Homo sapiens: one gene and its partners. The protein of the gene in region 2 purifies or fractionates together with the protein of the main gene of each other region. This does not show direct contact. Each region holds a gene or a part of one and is shown on either strand. Other genes may lie near its edges.

What was found.
Region 1: the proteins of SULT4A1 (region 2) and ERMN purify together in Homo sapiens (affinity purification with mass spectrometry; 2 studies listed by BioGRID and IntAct, with this or other methods). This does not show direct contact.
Region 3: the proteins of SULT4A1 (region 2) and PARVG purify together in Homo sapiens (affinity purification with mass spectrometry; 2 studies listed by BioGRID and IntAct, with this or other methods). This does not show direct contact.

Annotation. Positions count from the first base shown.
Region 1 is NC_000002.12:157,320,841-157,330,916, forward strand, and holds the start of ERMN (ermin), read right to left. Parts: upstream 4,985-10,076; 5' UTR 4,835-4,984; coding exon of another isoform or gene 4,803-4,834; coding exon 4,562-4,802; intron 3,923-4,561; coding exon 3,830-3,922; intron 952-3,829; coding exon 431-951; 3' UTR 1-430. UniProt on the Homo sapiens protein: Plays a role in cytoskeletal rearrangements during the late wrapping and/or compaction phases of myelinogenesis as well as in maintenance and stability of myelin sheath in the adult.
Region 2 is NC_000022.11:43,836,718-43,846,967, forward strand, and holds part of SULT4A1 (sulfotransferase 4A1), read right to left. Parts: intron 5,216-10,250; coding exon 5,085-5,215; intron 3,309-5,084; coding exon 3,228-3,308; intron 2,277-3,227; coding exon 2,150-2,276; intron 1-2,149. UniProt on the Homo sapiens protein: Atypical sulfotransferase family member with very low affinity for 3'-phospho-5'-adenylyl sulfate (PAPS) and very low catalytic activity towards L-triiodothyronine, thyroxine, estrone, p-nitrophenol, 2-naphthylamine, and 2-beta-naphthol.
Region 3 is NC_000022.11:44,196,797-44,207,046, reverse strand, and holds part of PARVG (gamma-parvin), read right to left. Parts: intron 8,706-10,250; coding exon of another isoform or gene 8,682-8,705; exon of another isoform or gene 8,480-8,681; intron 8,427-8,479; coding exon 8,325-8,426; intron 1,291-8,324; coding exon 1,218-1,290; intron 731-1,217; coding exon 621-730; 3' UTR 1-620. UniProt on the Homo sapiens protein: Plays a role with ILK in promoting the cell adhesion and spreading of leukocytes.

The DNA of each region.
Region 1 (10,076 bases), on a different chromosome or scaffold from region 2:
TTTTAATACCAGACTTTCCATCACTCCAATGTACAGGAAGAAAGATACCAAAAGAAATACCAGAATCATTTCAAATAGTCCCCTCAAATAGTCTCATTTGATGACTACCTTTCCAAGCATTGCTACATTTATAGCCGAATTATGCCAGATTCCCCCAGGGGACTGACTGCTTAGTGCTTATCACACAATGCTATATTAGTGAAGTTTTAAAAGATAAATGCCCAAGAATTTATTTAAAGCTTTTTGATTTGAGGTTATCAGACTGAATTTTTATCTAGGGTTATTTCCACATTATTCTACAGTGAAAAAGAGAGTCAACTTCCACCTCCCTCCAAGTGATAACTCAAATAAGGCATAGAAATATGCACCCTGGGGCAATAGAATTAGCTTTTCCTTTAGTGGGCATGAGAATTTCTCAGTTCCAGTTAGTTTATAAATGCATCATAGACTCGAATTCATCAATTCTTTGCTTGGTATTTCCCTTTCTGATTTTCCGATAGGATATTGTATTGTATCTGGAATAAGCATTTCTGGAGATATCACTCTTCTTCCCTAAGGTTGGCTGCTCATCAGGTGTCACAGCTTGGGAACTGGCACTGCTCAGTGGGGAGTCCTCACTTGCATCACCTTCCTCTTTAAATTGAGAAACCTCTTCATGTTTTTTCTTAAATTCTATCACTCGAACTTCATCTTCATCATTATTGCAATTATCATCATCATCATCATCAATTTCTTCATCCCAAACCTTCTGCTCCTCATCATGTTTAGAATGTAACATGTCAGCTTGGCTAGGTTTTCGAAATCCCAGCCATTCAATTTCAGCTGCCTGGTGACCTTTGTTCTTCCTGTCCTCATCTTCTTCCTCTTTGAGAGGCTGCTCAGTAATCCTCTCCTTCTGTCTTCTTATTTCCTGGTTACTGCCACTCAGAGGAATCTTCTCCCACTGATGCCCTGTAGCAAAATCAATTGGTAGATGAGATGTGTAGAGATTCCAAAATACCCAGCCATTAGTCTGTTATTCTCCAAATAATTTTTCTTGCTAATCACTTCCCAACACATGTTTTATGGGATATGATTCTGTGGGTTACCAATATGTTTTGCACAAACAGGCTACACAGCCAAATTAATTTCAAAAACACTGCATTAAATACAGTTAAATAAGCATCTTCAGAATTTTTACAAGCCTTTGAAATGCTAACGAGTATTGTAAATCTGTAAGAAAGTCAACAACCTAACTTCATTTGTCTATGGAACTCTGTTGTGGACTACTGTATTTAGTGAGACTGGTGTTCCCTGAGACACACTTAAAAAAAAAAATTCTTGTCTAGCCAGTCACAACTGGATACGTGCACATGTAAAAGGAAATGTTTGGACTTATCTTTTTCTCACACATACACACACACACGCACACACACACACACACACACACACACCTCAAGGAAAATTAGAAAAATACTTCAGAAAGAAAAAAATGCTCGTTTCCAATACTGAAAATGATGACTGTCCATGTCTGGTCACTTTTCAAACAGCTAGATCATACCAACATACCCTCAACAATATTTATTGAATATGGTAAGAATTAATTATAAGGAAGCTGAGGTTGTTCTCTGAGCCTTCAGCCCTGCAAGGCTTCTGTGGGAAGTTTCAGTCTGTGGTGTACACAACTCAGAAATCTGTCTGGGTTACACCCCTTGTCAGGCCTGAGTTCACCATTTTCTTTTGACACCGTGAGAGTCTATAAGTAAGGTGAGAGGCAATGTTCCTCTTTGTCTTTTTCCTCCACAATATTCTACTCTCTCCGAAAGATGTTCACAATTCCATTTTCATCCAAGGTGTTCAGTTCTCTTATTTTTTTGTTGTTTTCTCACTCTAGGGAATACATAGTAAACTTACAGAGATAGAAGTAAAGATGGGTGATCACCCTAATTTGTTACACACAGCTGCTATCAGGTCGCTAGTGTCCCGTCAATGTTCCTAACATTATCCATAAATACACATTAGAATGTTTGCCATAATCTTATGCTTTGTTTTATTTTGTTTTCCACAAGAACCAAAGTAAGTGATATTTTGTTTATATTCATGACTCAGCCATGAGATTGTCACATATAAAATTACTCCTTGAATTTAAATTATAGTTTTTCCTCAATATTTTTAGCATCTTTATATGTTTTAATCCAGTAACATTCTTTTTGAAGATTTTATAGCTGTTTGCCACTGTGAAGATAAAACACACCAAAATCTGTGCCTCTATTATGGAGGAAAAACATACTCCATCAAACAGGAAAGGATTCATTGAGGGAAAACTTAACCAGCGAGACCATCTAGCTGAAAACTACAGCCTGCTTTCATTCTCCATTTGATGAAAATGAAAGATCTAGACAACTGTTACCTGCAATGGACTCCTGATCAAACATTTGAAAGGGGCTCTAGATGATAGGAGGTTGAGATTCTGCCTCTGAGAACTTGTTACATTGGAAGCAGAATAATTAGGGCAAAGAGGTTATTAAGTTCATATTGTGAAGTCTTAAGTCTTAAAAATTATCTCTGGTAATGTGACAGCTTGACACTGTCTATTGCTTGCTACATATTTCCTTAAGTGTTGCTACACTGCTAAGCAGACATAGTATGAGAGGTGTTCAGGCAAAGGGAGCAGATGTAGGAAATAGCCAATCACATTCCTGTCCTCCTTGACATCTACTATTTTATGTGATGTTCTAATATTTCAACCAATAGTCTCTTCAATATTTTGCCTGTTAAAGTCCTAACAAAGCTAAATTGGTTAGGTTTAGCAAGCTGACTTCAATTTGACATAAGATGTGTATGGCTGCAAGAGAGGAAAGAAATGATTAATTAATAGATTTTATCCTACACTTTATTTGGGAACTGTTTAAATGTAGGTGTCTTAGAAAAATCTAAAGGATTTTGTGTCTCTTAGTCTATTAAGTTTATTTAAAATTTAACATAATCACTTCAATGTTCTTTTTATTCTTCCATTTTCTTAAAGAACACAATTAAAATTAACTTTATCACCCTGTCTTTCTTTGACATGAAATAGTTAACAATTTTGTATTTACATTAGAGGCCTATAAAGTAAATCATTTCGTGAGATTACTTTAAACTGTATGTTGGCCGGGCACAGTGGCTCACGCCTGTAACCCCAGCACTTTGGGAGGCCAAGGCAGGTGGATCAACTGAGGTCAGGAGTTCAAGACCAGCCTGGCCAACATGGTGAAACTCCGTCTCTACTAAAAATACACACACACACACACACACACACACAAAATAGCTGGGCGTGGTGTCAGGTGCCTGTAATCCCAGTTACTCAGGAAGCTGAGGCAGGAGAATCGCTTGAACCCTGGAGACAGAGGTTGCAGTCTGCCGAGATTGCACCATTGCACTCCAGCCTGGGCAACAAGAGTGACACTCCGTCTCAAAAAAAAAAAAAAAAGCTGTATGTTAATTGTAGACTTTTAGGAAAGACCCGTTTTTGAAACATTTACCTTTCACAAGGTGCACACACAGATTTGGACACACCAAATCAAAAAGTAGGGTTGACTCAGTGGACTAACTTAAGAGATAGACATCACGTTGGTATGCCAATCAGCTATGCCATTCCATGCAGCCTCAGCCTTGAACAGTCTGGAATGCTTTATAAGGTGGAACCCACAGATAAGTTAAGACTCTCTTATCTGCCTACAGCAGCTTTGAAAATTTGAAGTCATTGCCTGGATTGCTTTGTCAACCCCACGCTCATGCAACATTTCATGGAAAGACTGTCATCCATACTCAGTCAAACAATTTCTGTGTACAAAACTGTAGTTCTTGTTACCTTCTCTGAATGTCATTTCATCAGCACTAGTTTCTTGGAGAGAAAGATCTGTGATAGCCTTATGAACAATAAAGAGTTTCTCTTCTGGGTTTTCTAGGAAAAAAATATAAAATCAGTATTTTAACATTTAAAATATTTATTGTTCAACAGTTAATAAGTTATCAATTTAAACTCTAGGTAGAAGTCTTTAATTTTAAATCTGATCATTAAAATTTACTATTTCACTCTTTGGATTCATTCTTTATCAATTCAATTTATTTACTTAATGATCACTTTATTGATTGTAATCTCTCCTTTAATATTTATATAAGATATATATATAAGATATAGAACCATAAATTCAGAGAACTTCAGTTATATTTAGAAGGAAATTTTAACATTTTGAATTCTCTTTGTTCAAATAATATGGGGCTGTCCATAATCATAATAAATACAGTAGTTAACATTTAGCCAATACTTACCCTAGACTTGTAGTTATTATTATTATTCCGCCTTCTTCTAGTGAAAAAAACTCAGGCTTCGGGAGACAGAAAGTTGTCTGGGGTCACAGCTGTCAAATAGACCAGCCTGGATTTCACCAGAGGCAGAGGTTTAGTCCTTATACTATGCGTAGTAGAATAAAGGGCTACATTTTTGGGGTGTCCAGCTCATTTCGATAATAGTTTATCAAAAAAATCCAGGGTAAATTTATAAGTCAAAACAAGAAAATTAAGGAGAAGGGAAACACTTTACCTTTTAGCATTTTGTCCTCCATGGATGAGTTGAGCAGCATGTTCCCTTGTAATTTTCTTCTTTCCTCCTGACTTCCTTTGGTGAGTGCACCTTCCAGACTGGGTTCTACCCTGTAGTGTGGCAGGGGGCTGTCCACATCAGTCAATTCCTCACTGATTTTAGTGATTGTTTGTTGACCGTTTTCAGGTGGTTTATCCCCATTACACTCAGCCTGGGTAAATGTAGCCGGAACATCTGTCATGATGTGCGGTTGAATCCGATCTGGAGAGAGAGCTTTAGGGAAACTGAGTGAGTAGATCCTTGATAAGATACCTGCTCTTGCCTTCAAGTCCTATAGTTCCAACTCCTACTCTAAGAGCACAAATTATTCACTTTAGTACATAATAACAAGGTTCTTTTCCTAAAAGTATCCAGACAGAGATTAGAGCAAAAGCAAGAGGATTTGTCAGATCTGCCAGGAGCCATGAGCAAGAATCCAGCCAATCACCACCTTCTTTGTTGCTTGCCAGTTCCCTGGCAGAGTTAAAGGCATCCTTTTGATTTACATAAACAAACAATCTGAAGCAATCAGGCTTTTGTGTTGGCATGTAGAGAGGGACTTTCAGCTTGTCAGTCCCCCTCTGGGAACAGAGATTTTTGTCCCTTTTCATAATGGCCCATTGTAATTTTCCCTGTAACAGGAGCCACAATTGTCCCACAGCTTTAATCCAGAGAGAATGACCACCTTGAGGCATATTAGTTCTGTGTAACCAGCTTAACATTTCCAAACAGATTTTGTTCAAGTAAAACCTCAGCTATTTTGTAAAGGACAATGGCATTGTTTCTTATTTATTAAAAAATAAAACAGCTTATGGAAAAAACCTATAAACAGGACAACTTTACTGTAAATGGTTCTGGCTGCAGATTTGATGGTGTGCTTCCAGCAGGCTGGAGAAGGGACCTATGAAATAAACAAATTCTACCAACTTGCTAATACCAAAAGTTTTATAATTTCAGAGTAATTTACTTAGTCTATAGCTTCTTATCCTCTAGTTTATGTCTGCTGAAGCCCAGCCGATCCTTTAAAACCCTAATAAAATTATCGCCATGAAGGTTTCTCCTCCCCCAATCAGAATTACAATCCTTTCTATTCCATACTGATATTACACAATGCTGGTAAAATGTAGAGGACCAATGCAATCTGCCCTTGGGAGAAACAGGTGATTATGTTAAATGACTGCTACTGACCACCCCTTCCTTTTTAAATCTTTTTCTTTTTTGGATTTCTCATAGTACAAAATGGTTCCAGAGCCTTTGCCCACACAGCTCCTTCTATGTGAAATGCCCTTCTCTTCCTCAAGCCCAAGCCCTGGGCTGACCAGCTTCCCTAAGTTCTGTTTTTAAGCTTAAATATCATCTCCTTAACTACACTATCTCTAACCGCCAGGATTAGGACAGGACTCTGTTACACATTGTCTTTGCCCTTCAGAGTATTCTTCATGGTTGTAACTAAATAAGCAACTGCACAATTATCTCTGTAATGTCTGTTTCACCAACTGCAAACTAAGTTTCATCTGGCGAGGGGCCAGTTTAACTTGCTTACATGTGTCCCCAGCACTTAGCATCTGGCTTGGAATAGTAGCACGCAATAAAAATAATTATATATATACACATATATACACAAATAATTATATATATACACATACATAACAAGAATTATATTATATATATAATATATACAATAAATTTTATCCCCAAGAGAATAAATTTCAGATCATTTTTAAAGAGAAGAAGAATAGGTGTTGAAGAGTTGTAGTAAGCATATCACCTTTAAAAGTGTGTCTAGGGCTGAGCCCATTCAGGTCTATATCAGGGACAACACCTCACTCTTGTATAATCCCCTCTCCCTTGTCCTTGGAAGACATCTCTAATAGATCCTAGATCTCCCTCCCGCGTCATCACCAGCTGTTCTCTAGTCAGCACTCTAATTCTATGTTTGTTTGATTGTTTAACTGTTTTAACAAACGCTCATATCACACTTATTATGTGCAAGCTACTGTCCTAATTGACTCATAAATAGTAATACACTTACTCTTCATAACAGTCTTCTGAGGTAGGTGCTGTTGTTATCTCCATTTTATAGACTAGAAAAATGAAGTGCAGAGAGATTAAGGAGTTCAGCTAGTAAGGTCACAGAGCCAGCAAGCCTACTGATGAGAGTTTGCAGCACAGATGAAGCTAAGCGCCATCCCTGGCCTGTGTGCAGATGTTTCCTTGGACCAGAGATCCCACAGGGGTTCGGCATTAGCACCTTGGCAGTAGAGACAGTTGTGGCCAGGAGAGGGCAGCAGAGAGCCTAAGGCAGTCTCAAGACCTGCCCCAGAGACACCCTGCAGCTGCTGAGGATGATGTTCTGGGAGCGTCCTCCCAAGAAATTCAACTACAAGCTTACTGTTGAGAAGATATTGAGTGGAATCATATGGGAGAATGCAGAAACTAAGACCAAGCTTAGGAACAAATGGGGACATACTAGATTGTGAGATCCTTAGGGCAGGAAGTGGCACTAATTCAACCAAATGCCCTGCGATAAACACAGGAGTACAGAAATACATTAGCTCCAAAGGTCATGCCTCCAATCACTCCGTTCCCTCGGGGCTGCCAAGTACCTCAATCCAGGGACATAGCAAAGTTGAGACAGTTCAGATTCATTGTCTCTCCTACTCCTAGATTTCTATTACCCCATGGCAACGGGCACCTCATACCCATAGCCTAGCTTTTATGGGAATTCGTGTCTTTATTTTTGGATTGCCTTCTTTCTAAAACCATGCTGTGACATTTTTTATGGCCTTAAAATTATTTCAGTTTTGGAAAGATAGAGAAATGATCCAGAGTTCTGTCATCCTTGGCTAACCATGTGTTTACATTTATTTAAAAACATGCTTTTATGCTGCCCTAGGGAATAATGGAGGTCGGGTAAATGGTTTGTAACGTGTATTATTTTTTCCTACAAGTAGACGGCAACATGAGACACATTTAGCAACAAGATGAGTCTATCCAACTACTAGATAAAACATAGGCTATTTTGTTCATAAAGAGGTAAGTTGTCTCCCATTATTTGTAACAACCTATGACTTAGAAAGTATGTTAGAATTTGCACTATCATCCTTACTTCAAATACAATTGCAGAATGTTCACTGTATGAAACATGACTGTTTTATTTTATGTAGTTTACTGGATCTTGTGGCTTTTTCCTTAGAAGAATTTCGCTCTTGTCACCTAGGCTGGAGTACAGTGGCACAATCTCGGCTCACTGCAACCTCTGCCTCCCAGGTTCAAGAGATTCTCCTGCCTCAGCCTCCTGAGTAGCTGGGATTACAGGCATGCGCCTTGATGCCTGGCTAATTTTTGTATTTTTAGTAGCGGGGAGGATTTCTCCATGTTGGTCAGGCTGGTCTCGAACTCCTGGCCTCAGGTGATCCACCCGCCTTGGCCTCCCAAAGTGCTGGGATTACAGGCATAAAGCACTACACCTGGCCCCTAGTTATTATTCTTAATGCTAAAGGACATTGTACAAATGTAACCATTATTAAATCTAAAGCCAAAAAAAAGGTAATGAAAAGATTTTCATATAAGAATATAAAGAATCAAAATAAAATTATGTAAATATTCACTTTCCATTTGTCCAATACCAAATGCTTAATGTTAAGGCTATCTTAGGTCCAGAATCAGGATTTGGGGAAAAGTCATAAAATCTTGATCTTTAATCTTAATCATATGTGAAAAGCCAAGCCACAAGCTAATGTTATGGCTAAGAGATGGTCACAGAGCACTGAATAAAAACAAGAAATACATTTAAAAGAAAAATGTTGATCCTGGCAGCTTGAAGCCAATCTTAAACAAACATTGACTTACATAGTTGGGACAGGGGTATTGTTTCAATTAGGGTTGGAAGGGAAAGGCAGAACCACTAAGAGATGGAGCAATCCATCTATCAATCGATCAATTGATTGATCAATCAGAAGGGATTTGACTTTACACAATGGTGGGTGCCAGTGAAGCTGCCTCTATATGTCTGCTGTTGCATTTGATGCTGGAGCCTGAAGTCTGCAGGGCAGGAAGTTGGGAAGGGATGATGGATAGAAACTTAAAGGGGGAGAGCAAGAACAAACTGGGTTCCCAGGTATAAGCTGGACACACGGGGGCAAACTGAAACCCGCGTCGGCTCTCAGTGCCTCTGACCTTAGCGGTTGGAATGCCCTCCCAAAGAAGCCCGGCCCAGGATCATAGAAGCTGGAGGAAGATCCAGGGAGGTGGAACAGTTGCAGGCCCAGCTGCTGCCCATGCACCAGGTGAGGCAGCAGACGGGCAGCAGTGTGTGCCAGCTACAAAATAGCTGCTTCACTTCCGCCCCACCAAGCTCACAGAACAATGTTTACTTTGGCTCACGTTTCTTTTTCAGGAATCATTCAGGAAAGAAAATTCAGGGAAATTTAGTTTAGCCTAGTCAGACTGACATACAACAGTCACAATCCTACCAATAACCCATAGAATTTTCTATAAGGAATAGAGCAATGACCCAGGGAATGTGCAACCCTAAACAAGCCTGAAGAGACAGGATCATCCCAATTGGTTCACTTCAGGGATTAAAATTCCAAATTGAAGGGCCGTCCCAGCTAAAGTGAACTGTTACAGAAATACAGACTATCATAACACAACAAAATCAATCAACAGCCATATATTTTATTTCACAAAACAATAATTGCCTGCCACCTGGTATAAATCAGATTAAATTGATTATCGTGTGCCATGTTCATGCTTTCCTTTTACTTTTATGCCAAGAATGGAATAATGGCTGCCATTCTAATGATACAGTTTCCTGAAGTAAATAATGGTTTATCCCAGGAAACCAATACTGAAGTCTATGGGTAGCTCATGAGTATTAAGGGTTTAATGTAACAGAATTTCAAAATTTAACTGCATCTTACAAGAAGCATGCTTTTCAATGTTGGAGGCAGGGGAGGGGATAATTATCTGTTCTCCCTCTAAATATAAAATATTTCTTACACCTTAGGAAAGGTATATCTCTGTGGCTCTAGCATCTAGAGCCTGGCCTTCTAGTGATCCAGTGAATATCATTTTAAAGAAAAGCACTGGAAGAAACAGGCTGAGTATTTGGTGAGGATTAGAGAAGAGTGTGGCCCTGAACATAGGACCCTGTGGCCAACATGGGCTGAAGTGGAGGCTGGGAGGGAGAGTGCTGACAGTTAAGAGTCCCCTTCAAATAGAGGACAAATGAGCATTCTCATCAGTGACCCTCATAGGGTAAAGAGGAGAGATTCAGCCTGCTCCTGTGTGACCTTGGGCAAGTGTACAAATCAGGCATGTTTGGGTTAGAGATTACAGAAACCTAATTCAAAGAATCATAAACTGAATTCAATAGCTAATTTGACTGGTAAATTCAGAATTGGCTTTGTACTTGTTTGGATCCAAAGATTTAAACAAGGTCAGGCTCCATGGTTCACAACTGTAATCCCAA
Region 2 (10,250 bases):
TCTACACAGCATCCTCACACTGCAGGTGCCACAGGGACCCTGTCTACACAGCGTCCTCACACTGCAGGTGCCACAGGGACCCAGTCTACACAGCGTCCTCACACTGCAGGTGCCACAGGGACCCAGCCTACACAGCGTCCTGACACTGCAGGTGCCACAGGGAGCCTGTCTACACAGCGTCCGCACACTGCAGGTGTCACAGGAAGCCTGTCACGGGGCATCCTCACACTGCAGGTGTCACCTGCCTCCAGGGCCCTTTGCCCTCCAGCCTCGCAGAGCTGGTCACCAGGCTCACGCGTGGTTGTTTATGCAGGACCCTCCTGCTGTTGCCCTGTGCTGTGGCCTCTGATCCTGGCCTGTCTGGACATGGTGTGCTTTCAGGGTTCCCGTGCATATTAGTTTCCACCGTCTTCAGGACATCAGGGAGGGGGTCCAGCGGTCCTCAGTATGTGCGTGCTCACTGAGTGACAATGAAGGACGGAGCACAGGGGTGCTGAGTGGGCCTGTCTACAGGGTTTGCTGGGACCAAGGCACGTGTGTGGGACCTTGCACTCAGTGGAGGATGGGTCTGTGACTGTGGTGACATGGAGAGGCCTATATTAAGAGAACTGTTAACTGCTCTGGCCTGAGCAAGATGTTTGTAGCCTCTTCCACGTGCTGGTCTGAATGTGGGTGTTGTCCCCATGCTCTGCAGAGAGCAGAGTCCATGCTGGACCCTAGGAAACAGCTTCAGAAGTCCATGAGTGGGTTGCTCCAAATGCCTGGTGGACCACAAGAGCAGGTGCCAGGGCCAAGAGGCCATGGGAAGAGGGGCTGGACAGAAGGCCCAGAGCAGGCTCAGGGGGCTTCAGGGTGCGGTCTGGGGCCTCCTACCCCTTGCAGGCAGGGCCACTTCTCAGCAGGCACAGTGGAAGCAGAGGCTCAAGGGCAGGAAACAGAATCATCCCAGGGCTTTGAGGCCCTCGTGGGTTTTCAAACTGCAAGCAACAGAGTCAGCCTGTGGCGCCCTGCACCGCCCCGCCAAGAGGTCCCCTTCAACCAGGCCTGGCAGCAGCTCTAGGTCCACTGCCCTAAGTTCCACTTAAACTCGAGGGCATTACGTTCCAGGATCTCTGCTACATGATTCATCCTCATCCTGTCACATAAGCCCCCTGCAGAGCCCCCGATAAGCCACACTGAACAATGCGGCTCAGCATCACTTCCGTTGGGAAATAAAACAGAAAGTGTATTTTCAGCCTTGGGTAGGGAAGAGTCTCAGTGTAGATTTAATTAAAGTGCAGCTATTATGACACATTTCAAAGCTCCTCTGCCTGCACACCCTACACTGCCCACTTTCTGTCCCAGGACCTCCCAAAGCCATGGCTGGCCATGGGGAGCCCCCTCAGGAAGGCAGGAACAGAACTGCACTGAGGAGCTCTGCCACCACTCCCAAGGGAAAGGTGGCCCAGCGGGGCAAGAGAGTAAGGACTGGGAGCGAGTGGGACCAAGACAAGAGGCCTGGTCCCGCCTTCCTTGAGAGCAGGGCAGGGTGGAACCCAGCCTCGCTCCTCCTCAGGGGCTGGAATGGAAGCCAGAGAACAGCACATGGCACTCTCGGCCCGGCTGTCCTCCTCCCTGCGGGCACAAGTGTGCCCTGCCCCGGAGGCTTGCCTGTGCCTGAGGTTCAGCCCGGCTGTCCTCCTCCCAGCGGGCACAAGTGTGCCCTGCCCCAGTAGCTTGCCTGTGCCTGAGGTTCAGCCAAAGGCCCATGCCTGTCACACTTAGCTCCAGTCTCCACTCCAGGCCCTATCACTAACAGTAGTGATACCTGGGCCTCCATTTTTACTGTTTTCATTCTCTCCCTGTTTGAAACCCAGGTAGGAAGGATGGATGTTTTAACTGGGGAACTTCTCAGACACCCCGACAGTGTGGTAGAAGAGAAGGGCTCTGGGTTCAGATGGACCTGCTCTGACACACACCAGCTCTAGGATCTCGGCCACGTTCACGACCCTCGGCCTCAGTGTCTTCATCTGTAAAGTGACCGCGGGCCTGACCTACATGGTCACTGTCAGAACTGGAGACCGTGTCGGGGAAGCACCCAGCACCTGCCAGGCCGTCCACGACAACAGACGGCTCCGGTTCTAACATGCCGCCAGGCTGCAACACTCACGCTTATCATTCATAAACCTCCGGCAGAATTCTTGAAAGGTGCCTCGGTAGCTCATGGTCCGCAGAGAGCGGTGGAACTGATAATAAGACACCACCAGATCCTTGGGGTTGCGAGCCATATAGATGACCTGTGGGTGACAGGAGCAGGATGAGTCCGTGTCTCCTTCCCTCCCAGGCAGGGCTGCCCCGACACAGGCCAGCCTCCCTGAACCTGCTGGTGCACCTCACAAACCAACACCTGCTTCCAGCGTCCAGCTGGGGCCCATGTGCACGGCTGCTGGGTGCTGCTGCTTCGCTGTTTCAGCAGAAAGGTGCCCTGTCCATGCAGTAGAGCTGGCCAGGAAAATTACTTGAGCATTTTATTTCTGTCCTCTAGAACTACTTTAAAATCTGCAGAAGACAAAAAACTTACAACCCTGATCCTGGTGGTAAGAACACAGGCCTCTGGCCGGGTGCGGTGGCTCGCATCTGTAATCCCAGCACTTTGGGAGGCCGAGGTGGGTAGATCACCTGAGGTCAGTAGTTCAAGACCAGCCTGACCAACATGGTGAAACCCTGTCTCTACCAAAAATAGAAAAATTAGCCGGGTGTGGTGGCACATGCCTGTAGTCCCAGCTACTCAGGAGGCTGAGGCAGGAGAATCGCTTGAACCAGGGAGGCAGAGGTTGCAGTGAGCCATGCCACTGCACTCCAGCCTGGGCGACAGACTAAGACTCCGTCTCAAAAACAAAAAAACAAACAAACAAAAAAACCCCACAGGCCTTGGCATTTGATGCAATTGAAAAACAAAGAGAATTCGGCCCAAAGCAGGTACACGCCTGCTGGCCTGCTTTGGATTAGGCTGGCCACAGCCATGTTTGACTGTGAGGTAAAAACCAACCCGTCGTTAAAAACTTGGGTAAAATGCTAGAGACGCATGACCCAAGACCACCTCAGAAGGGATCTTCACGTGTGGGCTCCTTGGGAAGACAGCCCCCAAGGCCAGGTAAGTGCCAGGGACCTGCATGTGTATTGCACAGGGACCTTGGGCTCCTCTTGGTGGGGACTCATCTCGGGAGGCAGAGGAGGTGCCAGCTTACCTTGGAGTCTCCATTGTGGAGGTCAGAGGGCAGAAAGCGGTAGGGCAGGTGGCTCTTGATGAGGCGGGGAGAGGTCAGTTCCTGCGTGGAGTCAGAGGGAGAGGCAGGTCAGAGGAAAGGGTGAGACCAAGGGGAGGAGTGGGGCCAAGGGGAAGGGGGCCAGAGGAGGAAGGAAGGGGTGGGGTTCAGGGGAAGTGGAGTTATCAGAGGGAACGGCGGGTCTAGGGTAGCGGAGGGGTCAGGAGAGCGTCAGGTAAGAGGGAGGGGTGAGGCCAGAGGGAGGGGTAAGGCCAGGAGCAGGGGGACCAGAGGACGAGGGAAGGGGTGGGGGCCAGGGGAGAACGGTAGGGGTCAGAGGGAAAGGTGAGGCCAGGAGTAGGGAGGGGTCAGAGCAAGAGGAGGCAAGGCTGTCATGCCCTGGTCTCCTGTCCTGGAGAGAGTCTCGGACCCAGCCAGGACAGCCTCCCTTGTCACCTGAGACAAAGATTGGAGACATGAGCACACCCCGGCTGGACCCTGGCGGTAGAGACAAGGGTCCTTGACTTTGGCCTGGGGAGTCCACCCATCATAGCCACAGCCACAGGATCTGCTCAGGGGGCCTGGGAGCTACTGCCCCGGCTTGGAGTGGCGTCGGAGGGCAGCAGAGGCAGCAGGAGGCACCAGCCCCAGTGGGTGCTGCCAGGCTGGCGCTGGACCGCACAGCAACCTGGCCTGATGCGCTCACTGCTTCCACCTGCCCCTCGGGCCTTCCCATCAGCAGCCAGGGTTGTCCTGTAAAGCAGCCAGCACCGTGCTCTCTGCTCAGAGCCCGTCTTCCCAGCTGCCCTAGGAATGGGCCCAGCCCTCATGAAGCCAAAGAGCCCGGAACCGTTGCCTGCAACCCCCAGGCTTGCCTACTGCTCTGGAAGGCCAGGCCCCTCGTGCCGTGGGGTCTTTGCTCACGGGTCCCTCTGCTCCTCTCCTCTTTCAGGACCTGCCTCAGACATCCCCAGAGGAGACTGCTGGTCCCCCCCTGATCTGCTCCCCTCCCAGCGCTGATCGCTGGCTAGCTACTATGGCTTCCTGGGCTGAAAGGCCGGGCCTGATGCTGTCAGTCACTGCTGCCCCCAATGCCAAGAGCAGTGCCTTGAACGCGGTGGCCCTCGGCACGGCAGTACGGAACGACTCCCAGATGGTTCCGCACGGACAAGGAGAGCAAAATGGCCGTTCAGGCCCGAGAGGCTGGGGTGCAGACAGGGGCCCTGGAGGGCCACAGGGGTCTTGTGCCATGGGGAGGGATGGCACTCTCAGAGCATGACACAGGGTGGGATGGCACTCTCAGAGCTGGGTTTTGGAATGCTGCTCCAGAGGGAGGAGGACAGGTGTGGTGGAGGCTGCAGTTCTGGCCCATTCAGGTGTGAGGCTGGAACTAAAGAGGTGCAGCGGACGGGGTGGGGGTGCCTGTGGGTGTGTCTGAGGGGTGCGGGGAGCAGGGCTCTGGGGTAACATTTATTCATTCTTGATACCAAATATTTGATGCAAACACATCCTACCCAGCTCCCTCAGAGGAGGGCCCCCAGGGGAAAGCGAGGGGGAGGCCCAGGGCCTGCTCCCCACAAATGGCCCCTCAGCCCTGTGCCCCCCAGGCATTGACTTCCTTTCCACTTCACAGACTCCCTGACGCTGATGTGTCACCCACGCCCTCATCGGGTTCCAGGTCACTGCCAGCTCAGGCCTGCCAGCTTCTCCCCTGGCTATCTGGGGCTATCTGCTCTCCCCTAATCCACAGAGCCCCCAGGAGCAACTGTCAATCATCAGGGTGTAACGGTAGAAATACCCTAAAGAGGTGCTGGGACAGGTGCTGCTGGCCCTGGGTACCTTGATGATGTCCAGGCCCGGCTGTGGGTACTCCAGGACCGGGAGCTGCTCGTCGATGTTCATCAAGCCGATCTCATCGGGGTCAGCGCCCTGGCTCACCAAGTAGACCACCTCCTGCAGCAAGCTGGTGCCTGGAGGGGAGAAGCCCCAGCGCGGGGTGCTCAGAGGAGGCCCACGCGCCCGGCCCTGTGCTCGGGTCAACACCTGCTGCCCAAGAAGGGGCTCAAGAGCCCCAGGTGGGGCCCAGGGCGACTGAGTCTGGGAAGAGGAGCGCGCCCCGCACGGTCTCAGCCTGAATCCCCCGTGCTGGGTCATGGGCCAGTCGGCTCTGATTCTCAGAGGGGCCAGGATGCTTCACAGGGCTGTTAGGAGAACAGAACAGAACAGAACCCAGCCCCTGTTATGGAAGTGGCTCAGGGGCTGTAACAGGTGGGTGACTCGGCCCAACCTGAGGCTGAACTTGGCAGTTTACGCAGGAATGATGGGTCGGGGGAATGACCCGCTAGCCAAGATGAGGAAATGACGTCTGCCCAGTATCTACTGAAGCTATATACACATAGCCCATGATCCAGGAACTATCCTGGGGAGACACCCAAGGGAAGCCAGTGCTTGTCCACCAGTACGCAGGTTCTAGAACAGTCTTGGCCACATCATTCATAAAGTCACTTGGAAACACAAATACCCATCAGCAATAGAATGAGTAAGTTGTGACAGTCACCATGGTGTACTACACAGCAACAAAAAAGAATGAACTGCAGACATAGCACGGCCAAGCCCCACAGATAGGATGTGACGGAACTGCAGACACAGCATGGCCAAGCCCCACAGACAGGATGTGACGGAGTCCTCCCACCCCAAGGCGCTCCAGGGTACAATCCTGTATGTCCCATTGGCATGAGGTTCAAGGATGGGCAAAACTCAACTATAGTGACAGAAGTGAGAACAGTGTTTATATTTTGGGTTGGTTACTGATTCAGAGAAGACACAAAGGCGATTCCGGGGTCTAGAGCTATTAACTGGGTCTGGTGGGAATTACATGGAAGCATGCTACATTATGATATGTGCTGGTTTCCATCTATGGCTCCTGGCTCATTATCCCCCCAGCCCTTATTACAGTCTTTTGTCATAATATTGGACCACTCCAGGCCTTAGAAGCAGGTCTCAGTAAACAGCATCTCTCTCTCTCTCTCTCTCTCTCTCTCTGACCTTCTCCTGCCCCCACCCCTTTCACCTGTTCCTTTTTCTCCCCAAGGCAGGCCATACAAACTGAAAATATACTTGAATCTTCCCCCGCCTTTCTGTCTTGGAGCTGGCTATGAAGAAACTCTCTGGGCTGGGCACAGTTACTCATGCCTATAATCCCAGCACTATGGGAGGCCAAACCGGGAGGACTGCTTGAGGCCAGAAGTTCGAGACCAGCCTGCGCAATATAGCAAGACATTGTCCCTACAAAAAATAAAAAATAAAAACATTAGCTGGGCATAGTGGCATACATCTGTAGTGCCAGCTACTCAAGAGGCTTAGGTGAGAGGATCGCTTGAACCCAGGAGGTAGAGGCTGCAGTGAGCTGTGACTGCACCACTGCACTCCAGCCTGGGCAACAGAGTGAGAATCTATCTCAAAAAACAAAAAGAAAAATTCTCTGACCTGCCTTTTCTGACTGTGTGGGTCATGAGACCCCCAGTTCAGAAGGGGAGGAAGGAATGTCGCACAGGCAGGCCTTCCTGGGCTCCCCACTCCGACTGACAGTGTTGGGCTCACAGCCCTTTTGTCCAGTCCCATTTCTACATGCTTCCACCATGCCTAGCCAATGAGGGTTCCATAAAAGGCCCAAGAGGACAGGCTTTGAGGAGCTTCCAAAGAGCTGAACACATGGGGGTTCCTGGAGGGTGGCTTGCCCAGAGAGGGCATGGAAGCTCCGTACCCTCCTCCATCCTCCACAGACGTCTCTTCCTCTGGTATTCATCAGAAGCCTTTGTAACATCCTTTATAATAAACCAGGAAATGTCAGTGTTGCCCTGAGTTCTGTGAGCCGCTCTGGCAAATTAGTCAAACGTGGGCAGGGAGGGTGTGCGAACCCCAATTTATAGCCAGTGGGTGAGACACACAGGCAAAACAACCTGGGGCTTGTGGTTGGCATCAGAACTGGGGGCAGTCTTGTGGGACTGAGACCTCGCCCCGTGGGATCTCGTGCTGTCTCCAGGTGGGCAGTGCTGGAATTGAACTGGACTGGGGGACATCCAGCTGGTGCTGCTGCAGGACTGAGTGCCTGCTTGCTGGCGGGGAGAAATCCCCAGCCTGTCCGCCACAGGAGGCCTCTGTGTTGACTCTTGTGTGAGAGCAGAGGAAAAGCGGTTTGAGGGCTTTTCTCCAACTGATACGCACATGTAAGATATAATTCAATTAAAAAGAGACAAATCACCTCCGCCCGCCAGTGGCCTGGTCAGCATAACCTCCTCTCCTAAGACTGTGGGGAGATGTGGCCAACGGGAAGAGCCTGGGCAAGCCCAGCGTGCCGTGCCATTAAAGGCAGGGAGAGGCCTGCGGGGGAGCTCGTGTGTGCTGAGGACACCCTGGCACTCACTCACAGGACCACAGCTGCCCACAGGGCTAGAGACCTATGGACCAATTCTCCCTCCTCACAAATCAGCCACGCGGCTGAGCCAGGCCTCCTGCCTGGGTCTGGGAACCGTCCCTCTAGGACAAACAGCACATTTCGCACTCAGGTCCGACGGCCTCCAGCCCAAAACCCTTCCGTAGCTTCCCAATGTTCACACACTCAGGCCCAGGCATTCAATCATTTACTGAGGCCCTCTGAGCTCTGCACACCTGGTGCGGGGTCCAGGCTGCACCCTCCTGGGCAGGGCCAACCACAGCACTCTCCGCTCTGCCTGTATGCTCCTCCCAGCCTCAGCCTAGGCACAGCTGTCTCAGAGCCCCTGCCCCTTCAAGTCGGCCTTTTCTGATGGCCGGGATCACCTGCAGTGCACACCCTGGGATGCACGGGACAGGCCCTCTCCTCCCTGCTACGGCCCAGGGGAGCAGGCACTGTGACCGGCTCCACACCTGGTGCAGGCAGGAGGAAGCGGGGCCCCGCCTGGACCACACATGGGGCTGACCACATGCACTGGTGCCTTGAGTGCAGAGTCCCATTCGAGGACCCTAGGGCCAGGCAGGACACCCAACCAGAAGTGTGCCGGGACCAAAGGTAACTCCCAGGGAGAAAGGCGGCCCTCTGCGCCTTCTCCAGCCTCTATTCCCAGGCCCAAAAACAGCTCCAGGTCCCCAGTGATTCTCAGTCATCACCTTGTCTGACCTCCCAGAAGAAACGGGCACAGCTTAACCCACTGTGGTCCCTTCATATCGGCGGCTCCAGTTTCTGCCACTGGCTCCTCATCTCCCCGCCCTGAACGTGGTGACAGCCCGGAGTGCAGCCCTGGTCCCCTGCCCCCAGGCCAAACCCAGGTCCACCCCTCCACACATCAGCCTCCGGGGCACATGCCCACCAACTCCAGTACCTCACCCGCTGCCCAGCGCCTCAGTGGGACCCAGCCAGCTCTGGGGGCAGCATCCAAGGCTGTCTCCTCCGCAGCATCCGCAGCCCGTCTCAGCAAGCAGCCCCTCCAGCTGACAGAGGCTCAGGCCGGATGGTGGCCTCACTGTGGCTCACCCGGCTCCTCTCCTCTGTCCTTGCCTCAGTGAGCCCCGCCGACCCTGCCGTCGGGTGTGTCCAGAGCTGACCCTCCCCCTGTGACACTGCGTCCTCACACCTGAACTGCTTCCTACGAGGGCTCCTCCCTGGCTCTCTGCTGCCACCCAGCTCACTCTGCCTTCTAGTCCAGGGGTCCCCAACCCCCAGGCCACGGGTCTGTGGCCTGTTCCGAACCGAGACGCACAGGAGGAGGCGAGCACTGGGCGGGAAAGCATTCCAGCCTGAGCTCTGCCTCCTGTCAGATCAGCGGGAACACGAGATTCTCATAGGAGCACAAACTCTATTGTGAACTGCACCTGCGAGGGATCTGGGCTATGTGGTCCTCATGAGAATCTAACTAAACCCCGATGATCTGAGGTGGAGCAGTTTCATCCTGAAACCATCCCCATCACCCACCACCTGGGTCCATGGAAAAACTGTCTTCCGCAAAACCACTCCCTGGTGCCAAAAAGGTTGGGGACCACTATTCTACCTGTTTTCAACCCAGCGGCCAAAACTGTGGCTTTAACATGGAAGTCAGACTCCACCACTGTCCACTGCCGCCGTCAGGCAGCTCTGCCTCCCACAGAGTCAACGCAAGGCCTTCACCATGTTCCACTCCCTCACCACCTGGCTCTCCCCTGAGCTCCCTCCAGCCTCTGAGCCCAACCGGCCCTTCCCCAGGCTGCCGACACTGGTGTCCCTGCCTGGAGCCTCCTCACTCCCTGACTCCTCCCTGCGCCTGCTCAGATGCCGCTCAGTCAGCACAGTCTCCTTCACTAGCTGTGGGACTAACTCCCGTCCCTCGCCCTGTCATGCGATTCCAATGTGCTATCTACCTGCCCAGAAAAAGCCTGCAAATTCTTTTACATGCTCTCTCCTCTTTCCACCTTAAGGACAGAGGCTGTTTTGTCTTGTTCTTTGCTGCACCAGGAGAGCCAGCATGTGGCCATGCTCAATTCATATTTCCTGAGTGGACCGACAAACGCTGGTTGCTGCATAGACACTGAGTAATCAGAAGGGGATGTGTTGATCAAGGAAGACTTCCTGGAGGAGGGAGCTTTGGAGCAAAGGCACTGAAGGAAGGAAGTGGTCTGGCTTGGTGATGGAAAACAAGCTCTTTTCAATACACACAAAGAACTTCTCAGCCCATGGACTCTCCCACCAACCTGAGTAGGAAGTACCACCATCCTCATGGCAGACGAGGCTAAGGCCAAAATGTGCCAAGGGTTATAGAACCAGGGTGTGGCTGCCTTGCCTGTTCCTCCTGGTGAGGACCATCCACCCAGCAGCTCAGGACAGCTGCAGTGAGGGGGTCTTTGTCCTTAGAAATCAGACTGTGGGCAGCGTCCCTGAAATGGGCCTCTCCCAGTGACATTTTCATCACCTATTTTTCACGTTCCCCACCCGTGCAGCCCCGCAGGCCAACGACCCAGACAGACCTTCTCTGCACGTTAAAGTCTTCTTACATCAAT
Region 3 (10,250 bases), 360 kb from region 2:
CACGAAGATTGCTTCTTTGTGACTTTTGGGCAAAACTCACGAGGGCAGCTGCAGGACACAGCCCGGGTTGCTTTGACAGTCACTGAATCCACTTCTCCCGGTGGGTGGGGGCATGGCTATGGAGCCATTCGGGCTCCTGCCCTGGAGGGTGACTCTGGGGCCCATCCTCCCGAGTGAGAAGCAGGTGGGTGTGGGGAGCTGGGCTGGAAAAGGTGGGGTCTGGGGCTGTGGGCCCTGTCCCTGAGAGTCCCCAGCCCTGAGTGATGCCACCTCTCTGGGCGGTCACTAGCCTGGGCCCAGAGATGAGAGACTGATGTGACACACACTCACCCCATGGGAGGGAGGCTGCAGGTTTAAGGGCCCTCCTCAGGACCCTGTCAAGTTCCCAGAATCCCTCCCAGAAATACTTTTATTAAAATAAACTGAGCAAGGCCAGGCGGCTCAAAATGATCCACACAAGGGGGTTCAAAGATAATCCAACGATGGAGACAGGAGACAGGGTGGGAGGGAAGCGGGTCACGAATGCACAGGAAACAGCGGGACTGTGGGAGGACACCCTGCAGCCTCGGGCCCTCCAGCTGGGCTGACAGGCAGGCTCTGGGCTTTGGAGGCAGTGAGGGTCAATTCGGGGCTCCATGGGGCGTCCTGTCCCTGTGTGCCTTCTGCGTGTGCTTGCAGAACAGACCATAGAGCACCCTCAGTGTGCTCTTGGCATCCTTGTTCACGATATCTGCGGGCCAAAGGAGGGCAGGGCAGCCAGTCAGGCCTGGGTGGCAGTGACCGACTGTCCCGATGTGGTCAAGGTTTCCTGGCATTCAGGATTTCAGTGCTAATCCCAGGAGAATCCCTGGAAGCCAGGACAGCTGGTCACTCCAGGCCTGGGTCCCGCGCCTGCTGCGTGACTGCCTCCTCCTCCTGGCCAGTCCTCCTCTGAATGCTCCTGTGGTGCCCCCAACACAGCAACTCCTCAAGGTCTGGCTTCTCTGGACAACCTGTCCCCAGAGACCTTGGTCTCCCCCTCCCCAGAACCTCTTCCCCTGGGGCTGCAGTGCCCCCTCCCAAGAAACCTTGGCAAGCGCCCATTCTCCACCCCTGCCAGGCAAGAGGACTCTGCCAATGCGTGCTCATCCCCCAATGCCCTGCACCCTGTTCTGTGGCTCTCGCACAAGGCTGCCACCCAGGGCTGGCCACCGTGTGGGCATCTGCCTTGCACTCACCTTCAGGGCTGACAGGGCAGCTGAGCAGGCCCTCGTCCTTCAGCAGCTCCAGCGCCAGGGTGACGTTGTGCAGCTATGATGACAAGGCCCTATCAGATGTGGGCACAAGCAGCAGCCCCAGGCCAGGCCTTGGGTCCCAAGTGCCAAGCCCTTCCTGTTGTCTGTGATGTCCATCATGAGCCTAAACTCCCATCCAAGGTGGGCATCCCTGACCACGACCACAATCCGTGGTCATCCAGCATCTCCCTACAGCTCACTCTGTCACACAAGCAATCCATGTCTCATTCCTCAGCCACTCACAGGCCCCACTCTGAGCAGGTGCTATACCACACTGGGCACACGCTTGCGTCCAGGGGCCACTGCCCGTGAAAAAGGCAATCGCCAAGGAGGATACCCAATAGGGATCAGGGAAGGCTTCCTGGTGGAGGTGAAGCCTGGTGGTGAGTCCCGCCAGGCAGGGAGAACTACCCAGGGAAAGGAGCAAGGGCCTGGGGTGGCAGAGCACCTTTGAGAACAGCTGTTTCCCAGGGCAAAGCACAGTGAGGAAATCAAGGCTCAGAGGAGCCAAGGGGCTCACTGGAGCTCACGAGACAGAAAGCGCTCAAACCAGGTCTGTCCGCTCCAATGCTCATGCAAAGCAGGCTAGAGACTGGAGCGGTCCCCACCCAGGTGGCTGTCCTTTCCGCCACCCCTTGCCTGGGGTGCAGTCTCAGAGATGGCTCCCTTTAGGGTGGAGAGCGCCCGGGCATCAGTCAAGTCCCCCAGTGATTCAGAGCTCAGCTTAGTCCCTGCCCAGGGCCTCCCCTTGCTCCCCTGCAAAGTGGGCTCACCACAGTTCCCCTGTGCCTTGCTACAGGATATGGTGAGAGCCCAGGAGCCTGCCGGCCCTCCCACAGTAGGTCCCCTCCCTTTCCATTCTAGCTTCTCCCTTGGGCCTCGTCTACAAGCAGAGTAGGTCCCAGCCCTTTGCCTTAGGGCAGCAGCCTGGTGTGGGTGAAGAGGGATGAACTCCTGGTTCACTGTGACCTCAAACAGGTCCTCCCTTCAATGTCTTAGCCACCCGTAGATCCACTAGACGGGGTGGACATCCCAGCCCGGGGGTCAGCTGTGCTGGTCCCGTTCCCTCCCTATCTGCCTGGCCACACCAGCCCCACCAGGACAGGGCAGTTCCCATGGCAACCCGCCAGGGGCCAAGAGGCCAGGTTGGCCGAGCGGTGGATGAGCAAGGCCAGGCAAGACTCATCCAGAAACGCCAGCCTGGCCCAGGCCACCTCCAGCCACCTGCTGGATGGCCCGAGCAAGAGGACTCTTGGGATCTAGCTTGGATGTCTGTGTACTGCCACCCCCATCCCTGCCACTAAGTGTCTGACCTCGGACAAGTCACACATCCTGGCTGGGCCTCAGGTGCCTCATCTGTGTCACGGGGATGATACACCTGTCTGCCTTCCTCTCCAAGGCTGCCATGTGCGTCCAATGTGATGACGGACACAGAATTGAAGCCACAAAGCAAGATTTGAAGGTGAGGATGATGAAGGCATAGGAGCTGGAAGTGGGTGAGCAGAGTCCTTCTCCACGTGGGGACATGAAGATGGAGGGCGGGTCCCAGATGGAAAGGAGTGTATGGGCAGGGTGCCCAGCAGCAGCAGCAGGGCCGCTCCTCTGTAGTCAGCCAACAAGAAGAAACAGGCTAGGCACGGTGGCTCATTCCTGTAATCCCAGCACTTTGAGAGGCCAAAGTGGGCAGATCACCTGAGGTCAGGAGTTCGAGACCAGCCTGGCCAACATGGTGAAACCCTGTCTCTACTAAAAATACAAAAATTAGCTGGGTGTGGTGGCACGTGCCTGTAATCCCAGCTACTTGGGAGGCTGAGGCAGGAGAATTGCTTGAACCCAGGAGGCGGAGGTTGCAGTGAGCCAAGATTGCACCACTGCACTCCATCCTGGGTGACAAGAGCGAAACAAAGGCTATCACACGGCACCAATGTTGCAGCATGCTGCAGGGGCCAATGCGGGGTGAAACTCTGAGACTGTCCAGACCAAGATGGATGGGAAGCTCCGAGTGGACAGACCAGAGCATCACCGGAAGTTCCCATCACTGTGTCCCCAGTTCTTCCTCCTAGACTGGAATATTCTGGGAAACTAGGGTTGCAATTGTTGCTATTGTTCGCATTCTCATCACGAATATTATTTGCAGTTACATGGAGAGTAAATGTCGGAGTGAGAACAAGACCCTGAGGAACCTGAGGTTCCAGACTCCGCACTGTGCTCTCCTGCCTCAAAGCTCCGCCTTTGATACATTCAGCGAGCCAGCATCTCCCAAACTGTGATCTAAGATGGACAGGAAAGGGGATATCTGTGGCCAAACGTTTTTAGAAATTGTTGGATTAAATAAAATACTATGGAAGTCCTTCACTGCAGGACTTATTAGAGCCTTGAATGTGTTGGTGGGCCGCATGAACCTTCAAGACTAGACATGTTTCCCCAAGTTATTTATTCATAGAACCCATTTGTCACAGAACACCTCCTGGGACCAATGTTTTGGAAACACTTCGTTCATTCACTTATTTAAAAAAATACTTGTCATCTACTATGTGCTAGCCATACAACCAGTGCTCAAAACAGACCAGACCTCCTGCCCTCATAGAGCTTATGCTTTGGGAATTGCTATCGACACTGAAAATTATGACATCTGCTTCTGTTTGTCACACTCTTCCTCAATGACACTCAATCTGAACAAAAGATCATCCCCCAGTAAGAGCTGACCCTGGCTCCAGAGCTATCTCATGATGCTCTGTCCAGAGATTTTTCTTCCGCGTGTGGCTTGAGATGAAGATAAAACTACCACCTTCCACGGAGCTGAGAGAAGGTTACAACCCGGGAGGATACGTGCAAATCCTCCTGGGGAAAGTAATTTAACGTGGAAGGACGCCAAGGATTCCTGGCTCCGGGGATTTTATTTCTGGGAGCGAATGATCCTCTCTCCCTCCATCCTTAACTTCCGTGCCCACAATGAATAACTATCTCACATAAACACCATCAGCAAAGAGGGTCTGATAATGAGAAATCCAATTTCAAGAGGCTACTCTGCCAAGATAACAATTCCGCAGAGGCCCACCTTCAGCAAGGGCTGGTGTTCCCGCCCTCCTCAGCTGACGACCTCTTCAGCATTTTGATTACACATTCCTGCAGCAGAGATTGCCCACAATATGCTGTAAAAATTCATTCTTGGAGTCTGAGCTAAGAGGCTGCTGCTTTTCCCCCACATCTAATCTGACTCATATTCAGAAGTAAGTTCTAAAATCAGTGGATTCAGCAAAGCGGCTGCACACAGCAACATGGAAGTCTGCACGTTTGTTCCCGTCTTGTAACTGGGGCTTGGATGGTGCAACAGATTGAGCAGAGGCCCTGCAGCCCAGGGGCACCCCAGAGTGGCTCTGAGCTGGGTTCCGAGCCCCAGGCCCTCAGCCCGCAGGTGGTCCTGCCTGCCCCCTTCCTCCGCCTTCTCTCCTCACCGCTCACATTTCAGTGCCTTGCCTTCCCGAGGCAGGCTCTGACCCCAGTCTCAGCCTTGGCTTCAACCCCACTGAGCCCTGCCACCCCTCCATCTCCCAGAGACTCACATTGGCTCCACAGGAGGGAAACAGGGAGGACCCTAACTCACTGTGTGCTCTGGGCCAGACTTCTGTGCCTCTCTCAACTGTTTCCTCTGTGGAAGTGGGGATGGGAAGAGTTCCTAACTCCAAGACCCAACATGAGGATTTGCTAGCACATTCGTCCACACTGCCCGTGGGAGATCCCACCATCGGCCCAATTCTGCACCCACACACTTTGCAGGGCTGTCCCATGTCACTGTCAAGGCCACAGGGCCTGCTTCGATGGAAGTGGCAGCCTGCCCATTCTGAGCCAGGGCCTCATGCCTTCTGCCTGGTCTCTCATGTGTCTGCCATTGCCAGGAGGAAAGCGTGCCCGGGCCAGCTGCTGGTCCCAGAAGGAACATGGCAGGCTGTGGCACAGAGCCGAGCCACCCAGCCACGACAGCCTGATCCCTATCCAGTCCTCGGAGGAGTGACAAAGCCTAGCTGAGCCTCTAGCAGCTAAACTCAGCCGACCTGCCGGTCTGTGGGAAGAAATGAGCATGGTTTTCAGCCCCTAGGTTTTCGGGTGGTTTGTTAAGCAGCACGTTTGTGGCAATGGCTGGCTGATGCAGCTCCTCCGAATGGAAGAACCTAGGAAGCAGCAGGCACCGTGCCTGCCACAACCACCAGGACCGTAGACACTGACTGCCCCGGCCTCGTTGCTCTGACCCAACATCCCAGCTCTTGGGAACCAAGTCCAGAGCACCTGGCCTCCAGGGAAGGTGGAGGCCACACCCACTCAAGATGCATCCCCGTGGGGGCGAGGGACATGGCAGGCTGCGGGCGGCAGGCTGTGCTGGTGTGAGGCTGCCATTGAGCAGCTGGGTGGTACTGGGTAAGCCTCTCGGGCCCTGGGCTCCCCTCTGTAAAATGGAGATGCAGCCCTGCCCCGCTCTCACAGGGGCAAGGAGGGAGGGTGAGTGGGGAGAGGGCCAGGAGAGGCAAAGTGCAGGGAGCTAACCCCAAGGGAGTGTGGACTGTGGTACAGGGCCCCACAGAGCGCCGAGGGACTGCAGAGGAGCTGAGAAGGTGGGCAGAGCTGGCCGCCCGCCCAGGGAAGCAGGTGGGAAGCAAAGCCAGGGTAGGCTGGGCTGAGAGCACAGCCTGCGTGGATGTGAGGGAATGGGGGAGGACCAGGCCCTGGAGAGCTGGAAGGGGGCCAGAGGTCATGTGGCTGTGGCTGTGGCTGTGGCTGGGAGTCGGCAGGAAGGGAGGAGGGGACGTGGTCGGGGAGGCAGATGGGGCTTGGCAGTTGGGTGCTCCACTTGAAGCAGGGGAGAGGCACAAGGGTGGGTGTCCAGGAAGGTTAAGGGGAGCGGCCTAGAAGAAGGGCCTAGGTGGAGGGGGAGTCTGGTAGGGGTCCAGGGGGGACCTCACCTGCTACTGGGCCCCAGATAGGCCAAGAGGCCTGATCCAGGGCCAAGGACGCCCTGAGCATGTGAAAGGGATGGAAGCCTTTGTCTCTCCCAGAAACAGCCCCAGAGGCTGGCCCTGGGACGGGGCATGTGGCCCTGCCTCCTGCTTCACCTCTTTAGAAAAAGCTACTGCTGCAGAGAGATAAAGAGGTCCTCCTGCCCCAGGCCACGGGAACCCTGGCATGGATGGAGATAAGCTGGCTGCCCGGGATCCTGGGCACGCCACCAGCCACCAACACTCCAGCCTGTCCTTTGGGATGCACGCCTCCAATGTCACCTCCTGTGAGAGGCAAGCCTGGGGATACTAGGGACCACATGTCCCTCAATGCTTTCTCCTCGATGGTTCTCCAAACTCTTTCTTACTACCTGTGTGGCCTGAGTAGGGGGCAGGGATTGTCAGCCCATTTTCAGAGACAGAAAACCTGAGGTCCAGGCAGGCAGGGAGCTGGTGGCGAAGAGCACAAGACTCAGGCCTCTTGCCTGGCAGTGACCCGGGGTAAGCCTTGGCTGCCCGTGGACCTCTCTTTCCTTATTTGGAAAGTAGTAAAATCCCTTCTCATGGGCCAGGCCTACCTGGTAGGAAGGGTGCTCCTGGGAAGGGAACAGCTTGTGGCAAAGCCCAGAGATGGGAGAGCCCAGGGAGCTGGAGGAAGTGGTGGCACACACCACAGGGGCCTGGCGGGGGCGGAGGCAGGACTAGCCAGCGGGCACTGAAGGCTGTACCTGGGGAAGAGGCGGTGGGAGCTGCATCTTTGCAGGCTCACCTGCCCTCTCACCCCACCTCCATCACTCTCTTCATCCCTCTTCCCCAGGTCAAGCCACAGCCCTCATGCCTGGAAGCAGGCAGCCAGCTCCCAGCCAGTCCACCAGCCTCTAGGGTCCACGTGGGAACTGCTGATCCCCCCAGGTCAGGCCCCACCCTTCCAGCCCCTCTAGCCAGAGTGAAGCACCTACACCTCCCTGACCCATTCCTGTTCTTGCCACATTCTGAGCCTTTGCTGATGCTATTCCCTCCCCTCTGCAAGCCCTTCCTTGATAACTCTGCAAACCAATCCCTGATCAACTTCCCGGCTCCCCTCTGATGCAATGCCCTTCCTGACTCCTTGAGATTATTCTAAGCCCTCATTCTTCCAGGCCCCTCCTCTGACCCAGGCATCTGAACCAACACGTTTCACTGTGGCCCTGCAAGACCACACGTCACTAGGAGAACAGTGGGCACAGACTGAGAGCTCCCTGAAAGCAAGAGCTATGTTGGATCAACTTAACATCCCATGCAGTTCAGGGCCTGGCACTAAACAGGCCCTCAGGGAATGGGGGAACAGGCGTGTGGGTAGGGGATGGGTGGATGAGCAGGTGGGTGGATGGGCAGGCAAGTGTATGGGTAAATTGGGTGGATCAATAAACAGAACAGGAAGATGGATTGAAGGACAAACAGATGGATGCATGACAGGACAAGCAGGTGAATGGACCGGTAGGCAAGTGGATGGATGAATGAATGGATGGACAGACAGACATATAGATAAACTTCCTATGGGTGGGTAGACAGGCAGGCAGGTAGGTGGGTGGATGGATGGATGGATGGACTGGGTAGATGAATAAACAGACAGGAAGATAGGTGCATGGACAGGCAGGTAGGTGGATGGACAGGTAGGCAGTTAGGTGGATGGACAGGTAGGCAGTTAAATGGATGGGTGCATAGATGGTGGGTGGCTTGGTAGGTGAACAGGAGGGCTAATAGGCGGTCAGGTAGGTAGATAATGGGTAGATGGGGATGGATAGATAGGTAGATGATGGATGGATGGATGGATGGATGGATGGATGGATGGATGGATGGGTGGGTGGATGGATGGATGGGTAGATGGATGGATGGGTAGATGGATGGATAGGTGAATAGGTGGATGGATGGATGGATGGATGGATAGGCAGACATATAGACAAATAAGCTTCCCCTACACCCTTCACTTCACCTGGAAGTGAATAAACAGACTGGTCATGCCAGTTCTGTATATCTGTTCACCTAGAGGTAGACCATAAAGAAAAATCCTTGGAAAACTTACCATTTCTGCAGGAGAGTTGGGAGTGAGGTAGAATTCCTTTAAGTGCAGGAAGAAGCCTTCAAGTTGTCCAATCAGCAAGAGTAAGATGACCCCATCTGCAAACTACAAAGGAAGGAACTGGAGACAATCACATGGAAGAAGCCTGGCGAAGCCCACTCTGTCTTTTACAGGCTGTGTGGCCCTAAGGAAGTCATACAACTTCTCTGAGCCTCTGGTGCCTTGATGAGAAGTGGGGAAGACATGCCTGACCTCACAGGGTTGCAGGTAAAAAGTGGTTTCAGGCTGCCTGGTATATAGTACATGCTCAGTGAAAAGAGTGCTTTCTAAACTTACTGCAGAAAAGCCTCATATCAGTTTTTAAACAGCACGCTCTTCCACAAGCTACAGAAACACAGGGGAAAACAGAGTTAAGTGTAAAATTATTCCATCAGAGAAAGGCAGAGAGCAGCACACCAGGCTCATCTCGCTGGCTGCCACATTAATATTTCTGTCTGTTCTGTCTGTATGTTCAGAGATAAAGCTGTCGTCCCTGCCACCAGCATATCATATGTTAATATAATCCTATTGAGACTCTTCAAAGATACAAAACACAGGATGGGATATTGGAAGGAACTGCCATTCGAAGCCCTTAATGGAATTTCCTCATATTAAGTCTGCTTCGATGTTATTAGTTTGGGCCTGAAATCTTTTCTGCTGCTATTCCTTGGTAATACAACTGAAATGCAAGGGACTTCCTTACCCCATTTTATTGAACAGTCTCTAAATACCACCTTTGCACATGCCATGAGTCTCTGAAACCCATTATTTTACCAAGGGAGAGATACAGATAGAACAGGTAGAATGTAAATCTCAGAAATCATCCTGTTTATACCCACATAAAATATAATAAAACTACAAATCTCTCACTTATTTCATGCCGGCAGCGTGCCAGGTAATATACCAAACACGTGGGGCTCACCAGCTCATGTATCACTCACAATTCTACCAAGTTGCTATCTTGTACCCACTTTATAAGAAGAAGAGCCTGAGGTTCAGAGAAGTCCAGTAACTCACCCAAGGTCACACAGCAAATGTGGAGGGTTCTCAGCAGACCCCAGGGCCCATAAGTGGTGGAGGCAGGAGGGAAATGTGTGTCTGTCTGGCTACAGAGCGTGATACTTCCACCCTGCCATGCTGCCACACCATATCACACACAAACTTCTCACGTGGCCACCATGTGAGGTGGTTATAAGCACTAACTCTGGCCCCAGCTGCCTGGGTTCAAATCCCAGGTCCACTACTTATCACTGTGTGACTTTAGACAAGTTAATTAACCTCTCTGTGCCTTAACATCCTCCTCTGTAAGTGGGGTAGTACAGTTCCCACTTCAGAGGATTATGGAGAGGATTCAATGAGTTAACATGGAAAGCATTTTGCCCTGGGACTGGCACATAGTGAGGGCTTTATTGGTTTTAGCTACTAGGCATGGGAGTACATTAACCCCTCCCTCCCCAGCCAATGCCCATCCAGAGTCTCTCTGAGAGGTCAGCAGCTCTGGCTACGATCTTCATGAGCCAACTGGTCCATCTGGGACCAGACTCCCTCCCCACCCCAGACCCCAGCACCCAGCAGAACCCAGGTGGCCAGATGCCTACGTCATGTCCCATTCAGGCCACTGGCATCCAGCAGACTCCATGCCCACTCTGCAGGCCCCGGGCTGGCAGCCGGTCTGCTACTGTGCACCCCCTGCTCCCCTGCAGTGTGGGAAGCCTACAGGGACACAGCTTCACTGTGGAAAGCCACAGCCCATGGTGGGTGCTGACCCCCTGAGATTCTGCTCCTGCTCCTGGGAAAATTCGACTTAAGTCAGCCGGGGGAGGGGCTGGGCTCCTCAGGGTGCTTGTGAGAGACATGGAGCCTGCAGACGGCTGGGCTGCGCTGTCACCT